Linked DNA regions of Homo sapiens: regions 2, 3, 4 and 5 are each linked to region 1. Evidence: fine-mapped expression QTL. A gene starts in region 1. Each other region holds a variant in brackets. All regions are shown on one strand. Distances are between the middles of the regions.

What was found.
Region 2: its variant is fine-mapped to the expression of LINC02977 in blood mononuclear cells (TOPMed, PIP above 0.99).
Region 3: its variant is fine-mapped to the expression of LINC02977 in blood mononuclear cells (TOPMed, PIP above 0.99). The same link has a PIP of 0.9 or more in monocytes, prefrontal cortex, subcutaneous fat, tibial nerve and whole blood.
Region 4: its variant is fine-mapped to the expression of LINC02977 in macrophages (Nedelec 2016, PIP 0.95).
Region 5: its variant is fine-mapped to the expression of LINC02977 in cerebellar hemisphere (GTEx, PIP above 0.99). The same link has a PIP of 0.9 or more in cerebellum.

The regions. Positions count from the first base shown.
Region 1 is chr9:112,038,516-112,042,634 of GRCh38, forward strand. It overlaps LINC02977 (long intergenic non-protein coding RNA 2977), which reads right to left and starts at 1,909. Exons shown (of 3, transcript NR_186812.1): 1 at 1-1,909. SUSD1 (sushi domain containing 1) reads right to left here. Exons shown (of 17, transcript NM_022486.5): 16 at 3,352-3,445; 17 at 2,268-2,977. The coding sequence ends at 2,977. RefSeq lists enhancers at 2,517-3,156, 2,552-3,751, 3,157-3,795, 3,907-3,956, 4,047-4,116.
Region 2 is chr9:112,058,380-112,062,498 of GRCh38, forward strand. It overlaps SUSD1 (sushi domain containing 1), which reads right to left. Exons shown (of 17, transcript NM_022486.5): 14 at 49-307. Among named protein-coding and RNA genes, the nearest start is that of LINC02977, 20 kb to the left of the region's middle. The variant T/C (reference allele first, on the strand shown) is at 2,462.
Region 3 is chr9:112,173,207-112,177,325 of GRCh38, forward strand. It overlaps SUSD1 (sushi domain containing 1), which reads right to left and starts at 2,091. Exons shown (of 17, transcript NM_022486.5): 1 at 1,927-2,091. The coding sequence starts at 2,029. It also overlaps the pseudogene RPL29P20. RefSeq lists a silencer at 1,550-2,209. The variant T/C (reference allele first, on the strand shown) is at 2,203.
Region 4 is chr9:112,108,963-112,113,081 of GRCh38, forward strand. It overlaps SUSD1 (sushi domain containing 1), which reads right to left. Exons shown (of 17, transcript NM_022486.5): 7 at 3,809-3,906; 8 at 2,692-2,878. Among named protein-coding and RNA genes, the nearest start is that of SUSD1, 64 kb to the right of the region's middle. The variant G/T (reference allele first, on the strand shown) is at 2,036.
Region 5 is chr9:112,114,619-112,118,737 of GRCh38, forward strand. All of the region lies in intron 6 of SUSD1 (sushi domain containing 1), which reads right to left. Among named protein-coding and RNA genes, the nearest start is that of SUSD1, 59 kb to the right of the region's middle. The variant A/G (reference allele first, on the strand shown) is at 1,893.

The DNA.
Region 1 (4,119 bases):
ATAATTTGCAGCAGTTAGAGGAAATCCCAAAGTCCACGTTTTTGTTATTTCAGTAAATTTTTTTGGATCTCACTCTGTCACCCAGGCGGGAGTGCAGTGGTGTCACCACGGCTCACTGCAACCTCAGACTCCTGGGCTCAAGCGATCCTCCTGCCTCAGCCTCCTGAGTAGCTGGGACTACAAGTGCACGCCACCATGCCCGGCTAATTTTTAAAACTTTTTTTGCAGACATGGGGTCTCGCTATGTTGCCAGGGCTGGTCTTGAAGACCTCCCAAAGTTTAGTAATCTTATATGAACTGCTTTTACTTTTCTGCATTGTACCCAGAAGGTGATGTTTTACTTAATATTTAGTCAGTTATTTTAACCAGAAACTTTTAATACTAAGCAAGGGGGATTTCTTCCTTTCTATCACAATTATACTACATTCCATGTGGACAACTGTATCTCTGGCAGTTAATTCTAGAGGTGGAAATTAGGGAAGGGGGTAGTATGGAAGCATACAGCATTTACAAAACTGGCAAAAAATAAAATAAGTCAAGGGGAGGCTCAGATTCTTTCTTTGGACAAAGGTGGGCTTTGAGGAAAGATCCTCACTCATCAGAGGCCGAGCCCTACACTAACCACAGTAATTTGTATTGATACCCAATTTAGTTCAGGAGCTATAAAAATGTATGTTTGCGGCCAGGCGTGGTGGTTCATGCCTGTAATACCAGCACTTTGGGAGGCCAAGGCGGGTGGATCACGAGGTCATGAGATCGAGACCATCCTGGCTAACACGGTGAAACCCCATCTCTACTAAAAATACAAAAAATTAGCTGGGCACGGTGGCGGATACCTGTAGTCCCAGCTACTCCAGAGGCTGAGGCAGGAGAATGGCGTGAACCCGGGAGGCGGAGCTTGCAGTGAGTCGAGATAGCGCCACTACACTCCCGCCTGGGAGAAAGAGTGAGACTCCGTCTCAAAAAAAAAAAAAAGTATGTTTGCATTATTGCACATAAAAATTAAAAATTGAGAGCTATTTGTATTCATCTATTGAGAGAAACGGTCTCTGGGGGTTAGGATGGGGACCTGTCCCCATTATAGACCCGTTCTGGTCTATAATTTACCTAAGACGAGAGCAGAAAGGGTTTTAAATGCTGATCCTAAGTTGTCGTCGGAGGGCAGTACCCCAGAGGACAGGGGAATCATTCCTAACACTGGCAGGGGCCAGAGGCTGACAGCTGGCATTGAACACCTGAATGTCAGGATATTACTCGCCTCTCTCTAATTCTTCCCAATAGAGCGGATACACTCTGGACTCCCTGGGGTGGAGCAGCTACATGGGCAGTTTGTACTTGTTCCTCTTGTCTCTTCATCTGCCCATAAGCCCAAGGCACTCAGAGTCTTCCCTCACTGACACCCAGCAAGCCGGTGAACACACCGGCCCACTGCATTGGGAAGCCCTTTCCTTTTGCTAAGGACTGCATTCGTCTATGCTGCATCTTGAGGCTGTGCAGTATCACCTCCCCTCCTCCATGGTTTTTCTTCTCTAGGCCTAGCAGGCAAGGGAGAAGGAGAGATGCCAGAAGCCTCTGTCTTTCCTTCCCCATTCGTTTCTTACTGAGTCTTGGAGTTAAATTGTTAGTTAGTGCCGGGCGTGTGGCTCACACCTGTAATCTCAGCACTTTGGGAGGCAAAGGTGGGCGAATCAACTGAGATCAGGAGTTTGAAACCACCCTGGCCAACATGGTGAAACTCCATCTCTACTAAACATACAAAAATTACCTGGGCGTGGTGGGGGGGCCCTGTGGTCCCAGCTACATGGGAGGCTGAGGCAGGAGAATCACTTGAACCCGGGAGGCAGAGGTTGCAGTGAGCTGAGATCACGCCACTTCCCTCCAGCCTGGGCAACAGAGTGGGAGTCCATCTCAAAAAAAAAAAAAAAAAAAAGAGGAAAGAATGCCAATTCATGATTTAAAAGTAAAATCAAATAGACTCCAGCTGTCAACTTAGCATATTCACAGTAGGTCCAGCACCGCTTATATCTAATGTTTCATAGTTCATAATGGAGTAACATTCATAGTTACTGAAGTTTAGATAAAAGAAGTGTCACCCTCTATGGCAACCCCTCCCCTGAAACACACATGGACTCTAGTCTAGCCATGGGCTCAATACTGTTTTAAGCATTGCTACTACACTACCACCAAATCTCAGTTTCTAACAGGGGGCAAAGAGCATTTTTAGAAGACGCTTAGTAACAGAAAAATTAACCAAGGGAAGAACAATCTTAATTACGGGATATTTTTACTGGAATGTAGACATTACTTTTGAATATATAGGACAATAGAAATTGCATCAAAGCAATGCTGCCTAACAGACACAGCAGGAAACTTATTGGCATGGCCAGGCTAGTATATTTTCTCATTAGTATATCAACTAATTATAGGAAAAGTACTGTTTCTAAAGTGCTTGAAACATTTGCCTACGTCACTGTTCTCTTTTTCAATGACCTCCTTCATAAAGTCAAACTCTAGCCCAAACTTAAGCCCATCTCACTGCATATTGTAAAGAATGGATTCTGAATGAATTAACAGAAATGCTTTTATATAGGAGGTTGCAGAGATTCTCTTGCAGTCAATGTCTAGAGGAGCTGACCCTCAGGCATCACTCAGAGGAAGTCCCAGCCAAGATTCACAGATCTGTATGTAGCCTTCGGTCAATATCACAGTGTACATCAGGAGTCTCAAGTTCATTGCACAGAACTGGTCCTGTAGCAGGGAAGACTCAGAATTCCTGAGTTTTCTCCTTATGGTGACTCCTCAGGGATAGCCACCATCTTAAATCCAGGAATGGGGCCCAGCTGGGAATGGAGAAAGTTGCAGGCCCACATGCTCCCTGGACGGAAGTCACACGGAGCCTCTGTGCGGGCACCTGAGAAGCTGCCAGAACACCTGCCCAGCAGCAGTGCATCCTCCCCACTCAGTGTCCATCTGCCATCTAGACATGGAGGAGGAAAAGAAAAGAGACAAATATGAACACACTTTGGTTTTCCCACTGTGCATCTCTATGCACAGCTCACACGCACACCCATGGGAGGAGGCGAGGGGGAGCAGCATGGAAGCTCAGCCACCCCTCTGTGTGTGGCCAGGGCAGCCATCACTGGTCCTGCTCTTTTCCTGGGAAGGCATCCCCCATGCTACCTGGAGGTACAGGGTTAGTCATGCCTTTCACCGCTGAGTGTGCTCTGCTGAGCCAAGGACAACCTCCACCCACACTCCCTTTGACTCCCCTCATCCCCAGCTGTTCTTCGTGACTCTGACCCATCCTCCCCTCCATTCCAGTCATTTCTCAAAAATGACACCCTCACATACCACACCGCTGAGAAGGAGAGGAATGTGAGAATGATCACAACAGCCAGGGAACCCAGTCCAACACCCGCCATCTGCAGCAGCATGAGTGACGAATCTGTGGGACAAAACCACAGGCTTAGCCCAGAGTGCACGGCATCACCACCTCCCAGGAGGCACACACCCCACTGTGCTCAATCCATTTTAACCCAGAGCTTGGCCCCATTTAACAAAGAATCCCAAGAATGCCCAACATGCCTGTGTGTCCCCTGAGTTGGCCCTGTGGATATGCAGCCTCAGGAAATTACAGTTACAAGGTATTTCTGAAAAGGAAGTGTAAAGCCAGACCATGTTAAAGTTACAAGGGAGAAAACAGCTAATCTTGTTGAGCACACAAATACTATGCAACGTGTTACATTTTTTGTTGGTCCTCTCACAATCAATTACATTTGATAGATTTTTATGGGCCGTTTTCTTTTGCATGGAGGGACAAGTCATTATGATATTATTTGAATTTGGTTTCCAAAACTGATAGCCCTGATGGTCAGATAGAGCAAAGGAATATCCTTTGTTGAGTCACCTGTCATTTTCTCCATACCTCAACAAGGGTCATACTTCCCTGCTCAGGTCAGCAGGTTTACTGAGAGGATAAAAGTACTTTGAAAGACATACTTTCTATTTGGGGACCATCACATGCCAACTCCAGGGAGATCCCCGATTATAAACTAAAAAACACTCACAGTTGAGTTGCACATGTGGGCCAAGTGACTGACTTAGAGAATCATGTTCTAG
Region 2 (4,119 bases), 20 kb after region 1:
TACGAAGAAGAAAATACAGAGTTCACAAGAGCTTGGAAAGAAAGATACCTTATTCCATTCACTTGTGATTCGTAATATAATGCAGTAATCACTCCCTCTTTTCAAGGGTGCATTATAATATTCCCCATAGTACAGCCTGTCTCCTATAGGTATCTCCATGGCATCATCTGGAACATCTTTGGCCAGTAGTTCTGCAGCCACGTATCCATCAGCATCAGAGGCGTTGCTAAAGAAGGAGGAAGCGCCTTCAGAATCACAAGAAAATGTGCTTTGGAGGGCCAGGGGAAGCACTAACACCTGATATGAACTGGAAGAAAAAAGGAGAAGTGTCCATCAGACCCTTGCATGGGGAGTTCATTCATTCATTCATATTTATTGAGCACCTGCTATGAGACAAACCTCTTTCTTTGTTTTTTTGTTTTTTGTTTTTTTTGAGATGGAGTCTTGCTCTGTCACTAGGCTGGAGTACAGTGGTGCAATCTCGGCTCACTGCAACCTCCATCTCCCAGGTTCAAGCAATTCTCCTGCCTCAGCCTCCCAAGTAGCTGGGACTACAGGTGCATGCCACCACGCCCAACTAACTTTTGTATTTTTAGTAGAGATGGGGTTTCACCATGTTGGCCAGGCTTGTCTCGATCTCTTGACCTCATGATCCACCCGCCTCGGCCTCCCAGAGTGCTGGGATTACAGGCGTGAGCCACTGCGCCCAGCTGAAATAAGCCTCTTTCTAGGCACTGGAGACACGACACTAGGCAAGAAAAAGTCCGGGCCCATGTGGGATTTACAGTCTGATGGCTCCAACCATCATGGAATTCCAGTTTGAACCTAAAGGGTTAATGCCAGACGACACAGGGCAAGGGACCTCTCCAAGTTCTGGCTGCAGAGAGATGCCAAGTACATCCTCTTTCGCTGGGAGAAGTTGTTGCAAGTATCACTGCCCTGTGTGTGTGTCATAAAATTGACCTGATCAGTGATTTTCACGTGGGCAAATAAAGCCCAACTGTGGAAAGGGTTAGCAGTCACATGGAGACCGAGTGCCTACCACAGTGAATGTACTAAGTCCGGAAAAAAGGCTGCAGACAGTCATGCGGTGACCTGAAACAGAACTCATGTGATTTACATCCCCTACAGTTCATGGGCTGATACCAAAGTTCATGTGAAATAAATGAGACGCCAAGAGTGCAGAGTCACCATGAGTTAATCTAGTCTGACAACACCCTGAAACAGCCAGAACAGTAATATGTCATGTATGCACTGTAAAAACTGTTCCCCAATTGTGGACAGAAAAACACACTAACAAATGGGTATTGTTTTTGTTATGTGTTTCATTATTTGTCCCATCAAATAGAAAGCCTGGCAGTGAAAGGACGTGTGAGAATAAAAATGCACTGAGAATGAATCACACTTCCCTTCTATTCCCATCTATCTGGTACTTAGCTCCTGCCTCTAGTACCATGTTGAGCATCTGCTGTCTCTGTCAGGCTTGATAGCAGGGATCTGAACGACTGACTTGTATTCTTGCAAATCCTTGCACAGTTCTTTGGAAATGATAGCTCCCCAACCCCCGCCCTGCCCCGCCCCTCCGCCACCAGCAATGAATGATTCTTGAGTTGAAATTTCGGAAAAGAGGAAAAGCATACATCAGCGTGAAATATAATTAGGGTAATTTCCAAAACTCATTAGGCCATGTAATTCTATTTTACCAGTAAATTTGAACTTCCTGCTTCACATGTCAAACGCCCTATCTCCTGCTTCCTAAGAGCCCATGAATCACTAGGTTAAGAAGAGGGAGCCCTCCTCCACAGTGGGTGTTGGATATGGAAAGTCTCCCCCCACCAGGTTCCCAAACATCCTAGGTATCCTCAGGGCCCTGATTTTCTTTCTTTTCTTTTCTTTTTTAAGAAGGGAGTCTTGCTCTGCTGCCCAGGCTGGAGTGCAGTGGTGTGATCTCAGCTCACTGCAACCTTTACCTCCCAGGTTCAAGCGATTCTTCTGCTTCAGCCTCCTGAGTAGCCAAGACTACAGGCACTCGCCACTATGCCCGGTTAATTTTTTTTGTATTTTTAGTAGAGATGGTGTTCCACCATGTTGGCCAGGCTGGTCTTGAACTCCTGACCTCTTTAGCTGGGGGAAGTTGTTGCACGTATCACTGCCCTGTGTGCCCACCTCTGCCTCCCAATGGGCTGGGATTACAGGCGTAAGCCACTGTGCCTGGCCCAGGGTCCTGATTTTCATAAAGTCTTGGCTCACTTTCAGCCAAGGGCTTTCTACAAAAGAGATAAAGTAAAACCCACAGGGCAATAAGTTGTCACCACCAGTAAACATTTATTAAGCATCCACTGCCTATGGGGAACACCTGTAACAACAAACTTGCCGGGAGACTTGAAGACATCCCTACATCATAGCCACAGGTAAGAAAGTAAATGTTGCAGCACCTCCATGCGGTCCATAAGTACATCTT[T/C]AAATCCCTCTCATCTTTCCATGCAGGTGGTGGTGGTCAAGAGCAAGGTCGAGGCTCACCTGTGCCCATTTGGTTCCGTACATTGCTCACTAGAGGCATCATCGACAGAGTATGAATCAGCTCCCCAATTAGCCTGACCGTAATCACCTGTGTTGCTTGATTATTATACAAATTCCCCGACCTCATACCGACCTACTGAATCGAAATCTCTAGGAGTAGATTCTGGGAATCTGTATCGCTGGTAAAGCTCCCAGGTGATTCCTATAATCTGGCAATGTGGGAGACACGAGCATTAAGGGAACCCAGCAACAGGCTCCATCCTCTGCCTAACATCAGCAACCTCAGCAGAGACTTGGTCCCAGGGACCTTGCTCCATTATGTACCCCAAGACACTGTCCCTAAATGGTGCACAAAGCAGACTCAGGCCTGTCTCACACACTGGCAAAGCTGCTGCCCCCCAGCTCAAACCAGGTAGTCAGGCTTAGGAAAACCACCCTGCCTGCTGGTAATTAGCCATGTGATGTTAAAGAAGCAGCTGTGGCTGTTTGGAATATGACTGTTCTGGAAGGACTTTTCTCCTCTTTTTCACCACCACACTCCCTCGAATGACTCACAGTTCTCCACTTCCTGTTTTGGAGGCGCTGGCCGGCATATAGCCACAAGGGTAAGCTGTCATTTGGCTTTTCTTTTGCATTATGTCATTATTTGACATAAATATCACATTTGTTCTTGCAAATGCTCTCAGGAAGTGACATCACAACTTCTGTTCTCTTTATAATGACAGAATTACAATGCCTTCTGGTAACTTGTCAAGAATCAGAACAATTTATACAATGTCCATCCCTGGAAAGATCTTTGCACATTTACTGAACTTAAATGAATATAAAAGCAGGAAAACCCTAAGTTTTATTATAAATGGATATACAGATAATATCGCCAGACTTTCTTTTTTGTAATTTTATAATATCTCACTTTTTTTTTTTTAACCTTGATTTTACCGAAGGGTCAGCAGAGACAAAGGCAATGTTGGTGAGGCCATGTACATTTTCATCTCCTTGAGCTGGTACTGTGAGCAAGCTGTTCATCTCTCCACGCCAACCTCAATCTTCCTCTCTAAAAAAGGGACTGATGCTACTTTCCTAATCCTGCCATGACCTTTGCAAATAAAACACTTAACTGAACACACTGTAGTCCTCCAACTGAGGTAAATTAATTCCATCCTAATGCCATCTGGAATCCCAGAAGCAGTCATTAATTATACAGTGTCTTGCCTGTAACTCAATACATGAAAAGACAAAAAGATTTACCTAAATGATCTTTTCAGAAACCACTGCACACCCCCCAAGATCAACCTTACATAAAGGGCAACATATTCTGCCTTTGGGAAATGAAACGATGCCCCTGACCCACCATCCATAAAGGATGTACTATGAGACATGAGTGCAAAGGACAATCCTGACATGTCCTAACATGCAACCGACGTTTACCCAGGGACCAAAGGAATGGATGTAATTTCTTGAGCTAAACTGCCCAAATGCTTGTATATAGGGTCCTTTAGAAGTCTCTCTATGTGGCCGGGTGTGGTGGTTCAAGCCTGTAATCCTAGCACTTTGGGAGGTTGAGGCTGGTGGATCACCTGAGGTCAGGAGTTCAAGACC
Region 3 (4,119 bases), 130 kb after region 1:
AAAAATGGCCACTCCAGAAGATCAAGCCATTGAAATACCCATCAGGCATGGTAAAAGTCCCAAGCCAAAGAGAATGGGGGTGGGGGCGGCAGGCAGGATTCTCAACCACAAGTCTCCTTGTATGTCATCACATGGAAATTTCCTTCCACTTCAGGATCAGCGTTTGGTTTTAGTAAGGAAGATGGGGGTTCCTTAGACCCTCTTTCCCCCGCCTCAAGTTTACTTATACAAATAGCAAAGGAGGACATCAGCCCCATGCAGATGGCAGTCCAAGGGGGACAATCCTTCTGTCCTCACGTTGGCAGACACAGATCTCTACTCTGAAGGCTTTGTAGGGGCCTGAGCTCCTTCGGGAGTCTGAGCTGGAACTGAAGCTGGAGCTGCAGCCTGAGCCTTGGTTTGATCCTTGACCTTGGTCTTTGGCTGGCACAGCCTGAGCCCCTTGGCAATGCGGGCACGAGCACGTTTCCCAAGCTTGAGGTGGGCAACGTAGGCAAGAGCTGACACCCTTTGGAATCTTGGGCTTAACCTCCTTGGGGTTTATGAGGGCAAGGCCTCAGCACGTGCACTCATGGCCTTGGCACTGTCGCCCTGCATCTTCTTTAGGCCCCTCTTATTGTGCTTCTTGGCAAACCGCATGTTTGTCAGGAACTTGGGGTCCACCCCTTTAAAAGATTCGTATCTTTGTGATCCGGGTTTCATGATGCCGTTTCTGTGCCATTTTCGGGACTGGTTGTGTGTGGTGTGGTGCTTGGATTTGGCCATGTCTGCACTGTAACCTGTGGCTCCCGAAGCGCCTAGAACTGGCTAGACCCACTTTTCTTGTCACTCCCTGAGACGGCTTCCAGTGGCTTCCAGGCACAGCTAAGTCCAAAGGCCTAGGTCTGCCAATCAAGGCACTCTGCCCTCTGCCTCTGGTGCCTCCGTGTGCTTCCTTCCCTTCTCCCCCGGGCCTGAATTCTGAAGGAATTCATTCATTCTACACTCATTTGTGGAGAGGTGACAGTGCCTTCTGCTATGAGCTGGGATACCTTTTTCACATTTTCCCATATCCAAATATGACCAATCATTGATGGCCCAGCTCAAGGGTCACCACCGATTCCCCTTTCCCTGCCCTCACCACCCACACCTTCTCATGGCACCCATGCCATTCTGCCTTGTATTACAGTTATGTGGATGAATGTCACCTCCCCTGCGTGTCTGAATCCTCTGTGTAATTCCTACTCAGCTCAACACTGCATTTTGCAGAGGAGGAAAAACAACTCCCTCGATTGCTTGGAAATAGAACATTTGCTGGTCTAAATCCTCCAGACAATGAGCTCCACGAGGGCCCGCACTGCCCGCCCTCATCGCGCACAGGGAAGCTGTTCAAGGGCCATCTGTTGAATGAATGAGTGAATTAATGGCTTCACTCCTGTACTCTTCCTTACGCGTCTTTCTCACCATATTTAGCATCCGGCTCTCTAACAACGTGAAAAAATTAAAAGTGGTAAGAAAATTGCTTCGGGTCAAAAATGTGTCATGCAAAAGCCACCGCAGAGCCGGAAGCGTGACAGCGCCGCAGAACGCCCTGGCCTCCCCGCCCTTCCCCGGGCGCCGCCCTGCCCGGGTCCGCGCTCGCGCCCAGCCCCCACCCCGCCTCCTGGGCAGTGGAGGTCCCTGGGGGCCCGGCCAGGCCGCCTTAAAACCGGCGTCCCCCGGCGTCGCGGGGTCGGGCGGGGGCAGGGAAGCCCGGCGGGGAGCCCCCCGCTTCTCTGAGCTCCTCCTTGCCGATCTCCAACGGCCGGCGCGGGCCCCACCTGCGCCCCACGCCTCGGCACCGCGCCGGCCCGGCCCAGGGGCGGGGAAGCGTCCGTGCGCCCAGAGTCCTCGAGGCCCAGCCGGGGGCCCCGCCGGCCGCCCGTGCCCGTCCCAGCCCGCACTCACCGTCGGGGCCCGGCGCTCCCGCGGCGCCGCGGGCCAGGCCGAGCAGCAGCAACAGCGGCAGCAGGCGGCGAGACGGGCCCGCATCCCAGGGCCCCCGGCCCATGCCGCCGCCGGTCCCTCCCGGCGCGCCCGCGCCTCCTCCCGGGGCCCTCAGGGTGCAGAGATAAGGCTACAGGCGCCGCGGGGAGGGGACCAGCCGGCGGCTTCCGGCGCCGCCGAGGGAAGCGGGGGGCGCTGCGGGGTCCCCGGGAGGCCGCAGAGCGCGGGTCCTTCCTC[T/C]TGTCGGGGCCTGGGCTTAGGACACGCCCGTTCCGCGTCCGTCTCTGGCTCCGCACTTGCTGCCCTCTCGCCGCTCACATTCGCAAAGGGGGACAGACACTCATCGGATAATGACACAGCTGGACGCAGAGCCCCGGAGAGTGCTGGGGAGGAAATGTTGCGGAGGATTCAAGCCACTCGAGGGCTCAGGGAGGCACCCCCGGGGAGAGGGGTGAGGGGAGCAAGGGGCGGAAATCTTCCAGGACGTGAAAGGGAGCTGGATGAGGTGACCACAGCGCAAGGCCCAGATGAGAGGTCGGAAGACGCAGACCCAGGCCACCCAGGGGCGACACACTTGACCAGGTGACACCTGGTCACCGGGAGTGAGAGAGAGTAGGGCTGTGATGGAGGGAGGGGCTGGCATCAGTCCCCGCTGCTCTGAGGACACCCGGCTTGGGACGCGCTGATGCCAGCCCCTACCTCCATCACAGCCGTACTCATCCCAAGGGAAGGAGTAAACCAAGACCCAAGGATGAGAAGGACGTTGGGGAGGAATCTAAGCGGGAGTTTGTTGTAGAAATGGGGAATGGGGACCTAGAGTGAGAGCAGAGGGTTGGAGAGGGGCGTTGAGCTGCAGAGGGAAGTTAGCCCTCCTAACCCAAGTGATGGAGGTCGCCGGGAAGCTGTCACAGTTTCAAGCAGTGAATGACTTCATCACTGACACATCTCTGTCTGTTCTGTGGAATTGGGATTGGGGTTGGGTTGGGATGTGGAAGGCAAAGAGTCCAGCCCGGAGTTGCTGCAGGAATCAGGCAATAGAAGACATGTCCTGGCCCGGTGCGGTGGCTCACGCCTGTAATCCCAACACTTTGGGAGGTCGAGGCGGGTGGATCACTTGAGGTCAGGAGCTCGATACCAGCCTGGCCAACTTGGTGAAACCCCGTCTCTACTGAAAAAAAAAAAATTAGGTGGGCACGGTGGCAGGCACCTGTAATCCCAGCTACTCGGAAAGCTGAGGCGAGAGAATTGCTTGAACCCAGGAGGCGGAGGTTGAAGTGAGCCGAGCTCGCACCACTGCACTCCGGACTGGGCGACAGAGTGAGACTCCATAGACAGATAGATAGATAGATAGATAGATAGATAGATAGATAGATAGATAGATAGATAGACAGACAGACAGACAGACAGACAGATAGAGATAGAGATAGATGTGTCCTGCAGCTGGGCATTGACAAATGAGTGTGAAGAGGGCAGTGTGTAAGAGTGGAATCCACTAGGTTTTATGACTAGTCGGGGAGAAGGAAATAAATAAGATCCGGTTTGAAGGCTTTGAGCTTGTGATGTCTGTGGGAGCGCAGCCGAGAGCAGGCACCCCACTACTTCACCCCATATCCTCACTTGTTTACTCTCTGCCATGAGCCTGCCGTAAATCTCACCACTTTCAAACACACCCATATAAGGGCTAAAGTTGTGGAGTCTTAACAAGTAGTTAAAAATCAACTTCAAGCTGGGTGAAGTGTGGCATGCCTGTAGTCCCAGCTACTAAAGAGGCTGAAGGGCAGGAGAATTGCTTGAGTCCAGGAATTCAAGGCCCATGTGGGCAATACAGTGAGACCCCCTCTCTTAAAAAAACAAACAAACAAAAACAAACAAAGAAAAAGCTCATCTTCCTAGGCTCTTTTTTCCTCTTGGGGAGACAAGGTCTTGTTCTGTTGCCCAAGCTGGAGTGCACAGCTCACCACAGCCTCAACCTCTTGGGCTCAGGTAGTCCACTAGCCTCAACCTCCCAGTAGCTGGGACTACAGGGGCGCAGCATCATGCCTGGCTCATTTAAAAAATTTTTTTTGTAGAGACAAGATCTGGCTATGTTGCCCAGGCTGGTCTCCAACTCCTTGGCTCAAGCAATCCTCCCACCTTGGTCTCCCAAAGTGCTGGGAT
Region 4 (4,119 bases), 70 kb after region 1:
TCAACCTCTAAAAAGAGAAAGAACCAAACTTAGGAGTCAGAATAACCTGGGATTATATAACCTATGACCCCAGAGGAGATGTAAGCAAATATTCCATATGCCATTCTGCCAATATGTGTAGTATATCAACCAAATATACATTTTTTAGAAAAATATAAAAATTGACTCAAGAAAATGTCAGAAACATAAACAGACCCAAAATCATGGAAGAAATTGACAAAGTTCTTAAAGAATCATCTCCTGAAAGGGGTGAAACTTCAACAATCTTTTGAGAAAGTTTTCAACTTTAAAAGAAGGGAATAATTCAAACATGATATAAAGTATTCCAGAGGGAAAAACAATGGAAAACTTCCCAATTCATTTTAAGGAAAATAGCATAACTCCAATAATGAAATCAGACAACAGAATGTCCAGGATCTAGAGGAAAAAAATGACAAGTCTTTATAACAGTGCATAAATAAACAGAAGACCTGAGTAGACACTGAGTAAATGTGGAAACATACCTTGCTCCCAGTTAGGATGGCTCAACATAAATCCTAATTCTCTCTAGATTAACTTGCAAATATAATCCAATTCCCTTTAGTCCAGAGACATTAAATAACTCAGCCATGATCAGCCAACTCTTCAATACAGAGTTAAGATGCAAAACCGGATCTGCCTGACTCCAAAGACCATGTTTTTCCCAAGGGAAAGGAACTTGAACAGGTAATTGGATATTAGTAAAAACAGCTGACGCCAAACAGCAACCTGTCATCCTCACTGAACAGTGGCAGGTGAGTGATGATCTTTTAAAGACATTTCCCTATAGTAGTTTACTAATAATTTTGTAAGACTTCTCTGATTAGTTACCATATTAATTTTATAATATCTTTGCCTGCATATTATTTACTTGCAAAGAATTAATTTTGTTTTATTTATATACAAATGTCAAGAGACCTAATTTGTATAATCTCATAGTTGGTTTTATATTGTTAAGATTGGCAGACTTTTTCAACTATTTCTGCTGAACTATTCCCAGCTACTCGGGTTAAGGTACAGTTTCAGTGGGATAGCAAACAGCTAATTAAGAACTTTCTCAACTCCCCCAAAATAATAAATGACATCGGCCAGCTGTGGTGGTTCACGCCTATAATCCCAGCACTTTGGGAGGCTGAGATGGGCAGATCACTTGAGGTCAGGAGTTTAAGACCAGCCTGGCCAATAAGGTGAAACTCAGTCTCTACTAAAAATACAAAAAATAGCCAGGCACGGTCGTGGATGCCTGTAATCCCAGCTACTCAGAAGGCTGAGGCAGGAGAATTGCTTGAACCTAGGAAGCAAAGATTGCAGTGAGCTGAGATCGCACCACTGCACTCCAGCCTGGGCGACAGGGCAAGACTCCATCTCAAAAAATAAATAAATGACATCAATTACTTGTCAAGGTTTGTCTACCGGGTTTTTTGTTTGTTTTCTGAGACAGGGTCTTGCCCCGTCACCCAGGTTGGAGTGCAGTGGCATGATCATAGCTCACTGCAGCCTTGAACAAGTGATCCTCTCGCCTCAGCCACCCGAGTAACTGGGACTATAGGCATGCACCATCACACCAAGCTAAATTTTCTTTCTTTTTTTTTTTTGTAGAGATGGGGCCTCACTGTGTTGCTCAGGTTGACCTCAAACTCCTGGCCTCAAGCAATCCTCCTCAGCCTCCCAAAGTGCAGGGATTACAGACATGAGTCACCGTGCCCCACCTGTCTACAAGGTATTTAATTAGTCCTCATACCCATAACCAGAGCTTTTTTTTTTTAACTTACTGTAATTGTCACAATGTTGTTAAAAACCCACATGACAATTATGTAAAATGAGGTTTATTTCTACTTCTTAAAGCTCCTTCATTCCACTCCTTTTTTCAGCTAACACCTACCCTCCTGCACCCTAGGGGTGCCCCTGCTTCCACTTCCCCACTCTCAACTTGATCTCTTTAAAGCTGCTGGGTCAGCCTCCCTGGCACCTCCTCTTTCACACGCAAGAGCAAGAAATGGCTTTTTGGTTTTTTTGG[G/T]TTTTTTTTGAGACAGAGTCTTGCCCTGTTGCCCAGGCAGGAGTGCAGTGGTGCAATCTCGGTTCACTCACTGCAACTTCTGCCCCCTGGGTTCAAGTGATTCTTGTGCCTCAGCCTCCCGAGTTGCTGGGACTACAGGTGTGTGCCACCACACCCAGCTAAGTTTTTCTATTTTCAGTAGAGATAAGGTTTTGCCATGTTGGCCAGGCTGGTCTGGAACTCCTGACCTCAAGTGATCTGCCCACTTCAGCCTCCCAAAGTGCTGGGATTATAGGCGTGAGCCACCACACCTGGCCAGAAATGACTTTTGAGTTTACTACCAAAGATAAGCCACATGGCTACCCTCTGTTGCCTTGGATATTTGAGAGTGGACTGATCATCATTTAAAAGGCATTCCTTTTAAATGCCTTTTTATTACTTTCCACCTCTCCCGGAGGGCTCAGCTGAGAAAAAATACCCCAGAGCCCATTCAGCCTGGTACCAAGAGGATACGGATCTCTTGACCTGCTCTAGTTCTGTGGCTGGAGCAACTACATCTGAGTATAAATCTCAGACAGCAAATAGGAGCTCTCCAGCCCAGCTGATTCTGCAGCATACTTCCCCACATTCTGTGCTTAGCATTTTCTAGGAGGAAATGAGACTTCACCTCCACCTACCAGCTGTCTGGAAACCGATGACGGCTGGCATCGAGCGCCTGGGAGGTGCTGTGGAGATGTTCACGGTGTAGTTGGTGCCTGGGTACAGGGCTAGGCACACTTCTGGGGTCCTGCTGTCTGTGGTCAAGTTGACTGTCTCCTCACGAACTGATTCCATAGGGTCCAACCGTTGTCCTTTTATGGATATCTTTGAGAGGAAAAGACAAGAGAACCCACTCTGACTCCAGTCAAAACAATCCAGGATTTGTGGTGCTGGAGCCCATTCTCCTACTATTCTATTTTATACTGTGCTGCTCAGCCAGGGAGCATTCGTAAGGTAAACCTGGTCTGCTGATAAAGTCTGATCAGCCCAGTGAATATTAAACCCCTAGAGGAGACATAAATGAGAAATCTCCCTAGGAAGTGCTCTCCTGCACACAAATGATCAAATGGAGACAATTGCAACCTGAGGACCATTGGCTGCACTCTGTCACCAAGTCAGCAGACGCTCCCGGGCTTGCTCTGGGGGAGTGAAATACAAGTGCTTGGAAACAAGCAATCGTGAGGATGCCAAATATAAATGCATCCCCCACACATGCACCCTGCTGAATGACAAATATGTTAAACACAAAATGCAAAATAACGAAATCATCCAGATATCTTCAAAAATTCCATCCACTCTTTTTAAATGACAATGGGATCAGAAAGCAATTAGATTGAGGCCAGGCGCGGTGGCTCATGCCTATAATCCCAGCACTCTGGGAGGCCGAGGTAGGTGGATTATCTGAGGTCAGAAGTTCAAGACCAGCCTGGCCAACGTGGTGAAACCCCATCTCTACTGAAAATACAAAAAATTAGCCAAGCATGGTAGTGCACACCTCTAATCCCAGCTACTCAGGAGGCTGAGGCAGGAGAATCGCTTGAACCCGGGAGGCTGAGGTTGCAGTGAGCCAAGATCCCACCACTGCACTCCAGCCTGGGCAACAGAGTGAGACTGTCTCACAAAAAAAATAAAAGAAAAAAAGAAAAAAAAACAGCAATTAGATTGAGAAGCTCTCACGGAAGCAAGTCCCTCTGACTCATATTCCCATGGGTGACGTGTCTGTCCTAGCAGGAAAAAGTAGATCACTTTACTTACCACATATGAGATCTTGGGGTTTATTCTTCTTGAGTTTATTTGCCATCTCACACAGGTATCATTAAACAGTGATACATCATTAATCTTTGTCAGAATTTCTAAAAGAGAAAAAGGCAGTCAACTCACAAAATGCATCAATGGGCTTTAGCAAAATTCTAAAGGAGATCAGTCTCTCTGCATAGCTGGTATCTCTGCTGGTCACCATTCATCCTCAGAGGCAGACACTGAGTCAGGCAATGCAAGCTCTCCCAAGCCAATCACCCAACTTCTCTTCATCATGAATGAGCGTGGCCCATTACCTGACTTAGAGG
Region 5 (4,119 bases), 76 kb after region 1:
GACACCTCTTAAGAACTCCTCAGCCTCTCTCAGCTTCCCCTGCTCCTTGTCCCATCCCTGGATGGGTTTTGACAACATGACCAGGTCTTGCCTCCTATTCTGGGACTTCCCTGCTGCAGCACCCACACCCCAGCACATGCCATCTGGAAGTGCAGGGGAGTTAAAATCCTGTGGGGACAGGAGCTGGTAGAGAAATCCTTCCTCCTTTCTTTCCTCTGAAGGGCTGTCCAACAAAGACTTAGTTTCTTCAGCGTCTAAGGACACTGTCACACAGATGTGGTAATGCCCACCCTCTGTGGAGACCAGTACAATCAGGCATCATACGCTGACTCTCCTTCTTTCCCTGTTTTACTGCCCTTGTTTCCCACTCCTGGTGCCTGGGATTTGATTCTCTACTGCATAATAAATATAAACCCAGTGAAAGGCTCCCATCTAAGAAGAGTGAGAAAGCTATTTCTCCATGTCAGAAAATGACTCTCCACAACTCAGCTCCCGTTTCTCCCTTCTAGTAAATCTCTTCGCAGTCTCCAAGTGCAAAAGGAAGCCTGCACCTTAGGTACCTGTAGGGCCAATCCTATTCTCCTGTACTCAGAACCAATGCTAGCTTTGGATTGACCCAGATCTACTGACCTCTCTGCCCAAAGAAGAGTTTATATCTTTACTAAATCATCCCTTCAGCAGCAATGCCTAGATTCTGTGTCCCACATGACCTGGTCTTGGGTAAGCCCAAGTTATCTATTAGCAAGTGAAAATCAATGGAGGCAGAGAGGGAAAAATAGGCAAACTCCTGCCGAGATACCAGAAAGGCCACCTATGGCTGTCTGCAGCATTCCTGGATCTCTATATCAGTATTTCTCCCTAGAACACACACAATTTGAAATCAAAGAAATACTCCAATTGTGGGCCAAGTGGGTGCGGTGGCTCACGCCTGTAATCCTAGCACTTTGCGGGGCTGAGATGGGCATATCACTTGAGGTCAGGAGTTTGAGACCAGCCTGGGCAACATGGTGAAACCGCATCTCTACTAAAAATACAAAAAAATTAGCCAAGCGTGGTGGTACATACCTATAATTCCAGCTACTTGGGAGACTGAGGCACGAGAACTGCTTGAACCTGGGAGGCAGAGGTTGCAGTGAGCCAAGATTGTGCCACTGCACTGCAGCCTGGGCGGCAGAATGAGACTCCATTGCAAAAAAAAAAAAAAAGAAAAAAAAAAGAAAAGAAATACTCCAATTATGAGCATGGGTACCCTAAGAGACACAATGACCTTCAGTTCGCCCCCTTGGGTAGCATAAAGATGATGTTGGTACCAGTCTTTTATCAGCCTGAACAAGCCCCAGATATTTCTGGCCTCTACCCTCTTTGCTGCCCTTCAAAGCCCCAGAGCTCTTGGCATCTCTGCTCACTTACACATCCCTTTGATGCTAACTCACCACCTGGTCCAGAAAGAAAAGGCACCAGCCCAGCCCTCATCTTCTCTCTGAGTTGCCAGCAAAGCGAATTTCCTTTTTACTCTCAGTTCCTTTGTCATCGAAGCAGAGATTAGAAAGGAGTTTTCTTTCTTGTCCTTCCTTCTTGCTCATTCACTATGACAACTGTAAATGGCATCTCAAAGATGCCATCTGCCTCCAGCCTGTGCCATGCTCTCTGCACAGATGGGACCCAGATCCAATTATAGGGGTGTCAGATATTTCATCCCAGGGAGCAGTTTAACAAAGTTTGGTTGCTTTTCCCTCCAGGTGCCTACAAATTAGTTGGAAAGACTCCTTTATAAAAGAATCAGATATTCAACATCTACATTAATGCTGCCCTTTTAATGGAGACTATATGCCCTCATTCCAATAGTGCTGATAACTGAAAACATTTCTGGAAGTCCTCTTTGGAGCTGTCCC[A/G]GGGCTCTTTCATTCCCTGCTCACTACTAACTGAATGGCTATCAAATGCCAAGCATCCTGCCATGCCAGGCACTGGGCTGTGACGATGTTATCTGCTGACTATGTAGGGAAAAAGTACTCTTGAAAGTCATAGATCTGTGAATGTTAGTTGAAGGTATGGGTGCAGGTGAGATATGCAGGTAGGACAGAGACAGTGAATGGCCCAATGGCAGAACACTGGGAAACACTGAAACCCAGGGGGGAACCAGAGGAAAAAGGCAATGCAGAAGAGAGGCAGGAGGCTGGTAGAGTGACTGATGTCTAGGAAGGAAAGGAAGGACTTGAAAGAGTGTCTCTCAGCCTTCCAAGGCCAGGCACAGTGGCTGACACCTGTAATCTCAGCACTTTGAGAGGCCGAGGCAGACGGATTACTTGAGGCCAGGAGTTCAAGACCAGCCTGGCCAACATGGCAAAAACATGTCTCTACTAAAAATAGAGAAATTAGCCAGGTGTGGTGGTGCACACCTGTAATCCCAGCTACTCAAGAGGCCGAGGCACGAGAATCACTTGAACTTGGGAGGCGGAGGTTGCAGTGAGCTGAGATCGTGCCACTGCACTCCAGCCTGGGTGATACAACAAGACTCTGTCCCTAAAAAATAAAAATAAATTCTTTTAAGAAAATTATCAGCCTTCTTTCCCACCAGTCTCCCACAGCCTCCTCATCCCCTAGCCAAGAAGGGCCTGGAGCAGGTCAAGGCAGAGGGTGCAAACTCCATCTCCCTCTCTCCTCTCACATGGCTTTTCTCCCCTCATGGAGTGCCCACGGCATCAGGATTAGATCTGTGGTTTGACTTTGGGTAGAGGTGGGAAGAGCAGGCCCTCAGCCTGCCCAGTTGTAGAACACAGAGGCCTCTCTGGCTTAAAAGAAGGAGGCCCCCACAGTGTCCAGCTGAAGTCTCACTGGATTTGGGGAGAGAAAGTCTCAGTGAGTGATAAAGTAAGAGCCTTTGTTTTGCTTTACTCTATGTGTGTGTGTGTACACACAGGTACATATATATGTTATGTATATATAGATATAGATGTACATAATGTTATGTATTTTGGTATTTTGTTAGCATCTAGTATTTCTGTATGTGGTACTTAACACACTTGTAACTAAATACGTAAGTCATTATATAATGACCACCTCTCCTGAATGTAACTTTACGATGGCAAAGACCATGTTTCTCTCTCTATCCTCAGGCCCTAGCACAGTGCCTTAAATATAGATACTAAAAACTATGTATTATTTGGTTGAACTGGTTGAATGGATGGATAAAGGATCAACAATGCTAAATGTTGTGGAAAGGTTGAGAAGAATGACAGCTGAAACTGGAACATGAAATTGGCAGTTAGGTAGTCATCAGTCACCTTGGTGAGATGCTACAGTGAAGTGGGGGTGTTCGATGCCTGGTTTCCCCCCAGTAGGCTGAGAAGAGCATAGGAGGGGAGGGAATAAGACAGTGAGCCCAGACTACTCTTTCAGAAGTCCCACTGTGCAAGGACAGGGGCTGGTCTAGTGTACTCCCTTGGTTTCCAATTTTATATCCTTTTTCTTTATTTTTGGAAACAGCAAAAGGTCATAGAGAATAAATCCAGGTGACCCAAACAGATGGTCAAGCAAGCTCAGCATCATTTCTAGTCAAAACAGCATCTGATTTCAAAAGGAATGTAACTGATCTTCTAATACGGCTCATAAACTACCTCCAAAGGACATTATCAAATAGGATTCCAAGGCAAACACATGATGATAATGGCAGCACCACAGAAATCAGGGTATGGCTTCCCACAGTGCCTACTTGAATAAATGTATGTTTGGCTATAAAAGTTTTCATGTGTTTCCTTTCTTTCTTTGAAGTCTTAGATTCACATAAAATAAGTAGGAGTAGCATGGCTTAGAGTACGTTAGTGTAAAATATATTGCACACTTTGGGATGATTTTTGGTGGCACGCGAATACTTTTTTTCTTTTTTGGAGACGGAGTCTTGCGCTGTAGCCCAGGATGGAGTGCAGTGGCATGTTCTCAGCTGACTGCAACCTCCGCCTCCTGAGTTCAAGTGATCCTCCAGCCTCAGCCTCCCGAGTAGCTGGGACTACAGACGCGTGCCACCACACCCAGCTAATTTTTGTATCTTTAGTAGAGACGGGGTTTCACCATGTTGGCCAGGCTGGTCTCAAATTCCTGACCTCAGGTGATCCACCCTTCTCG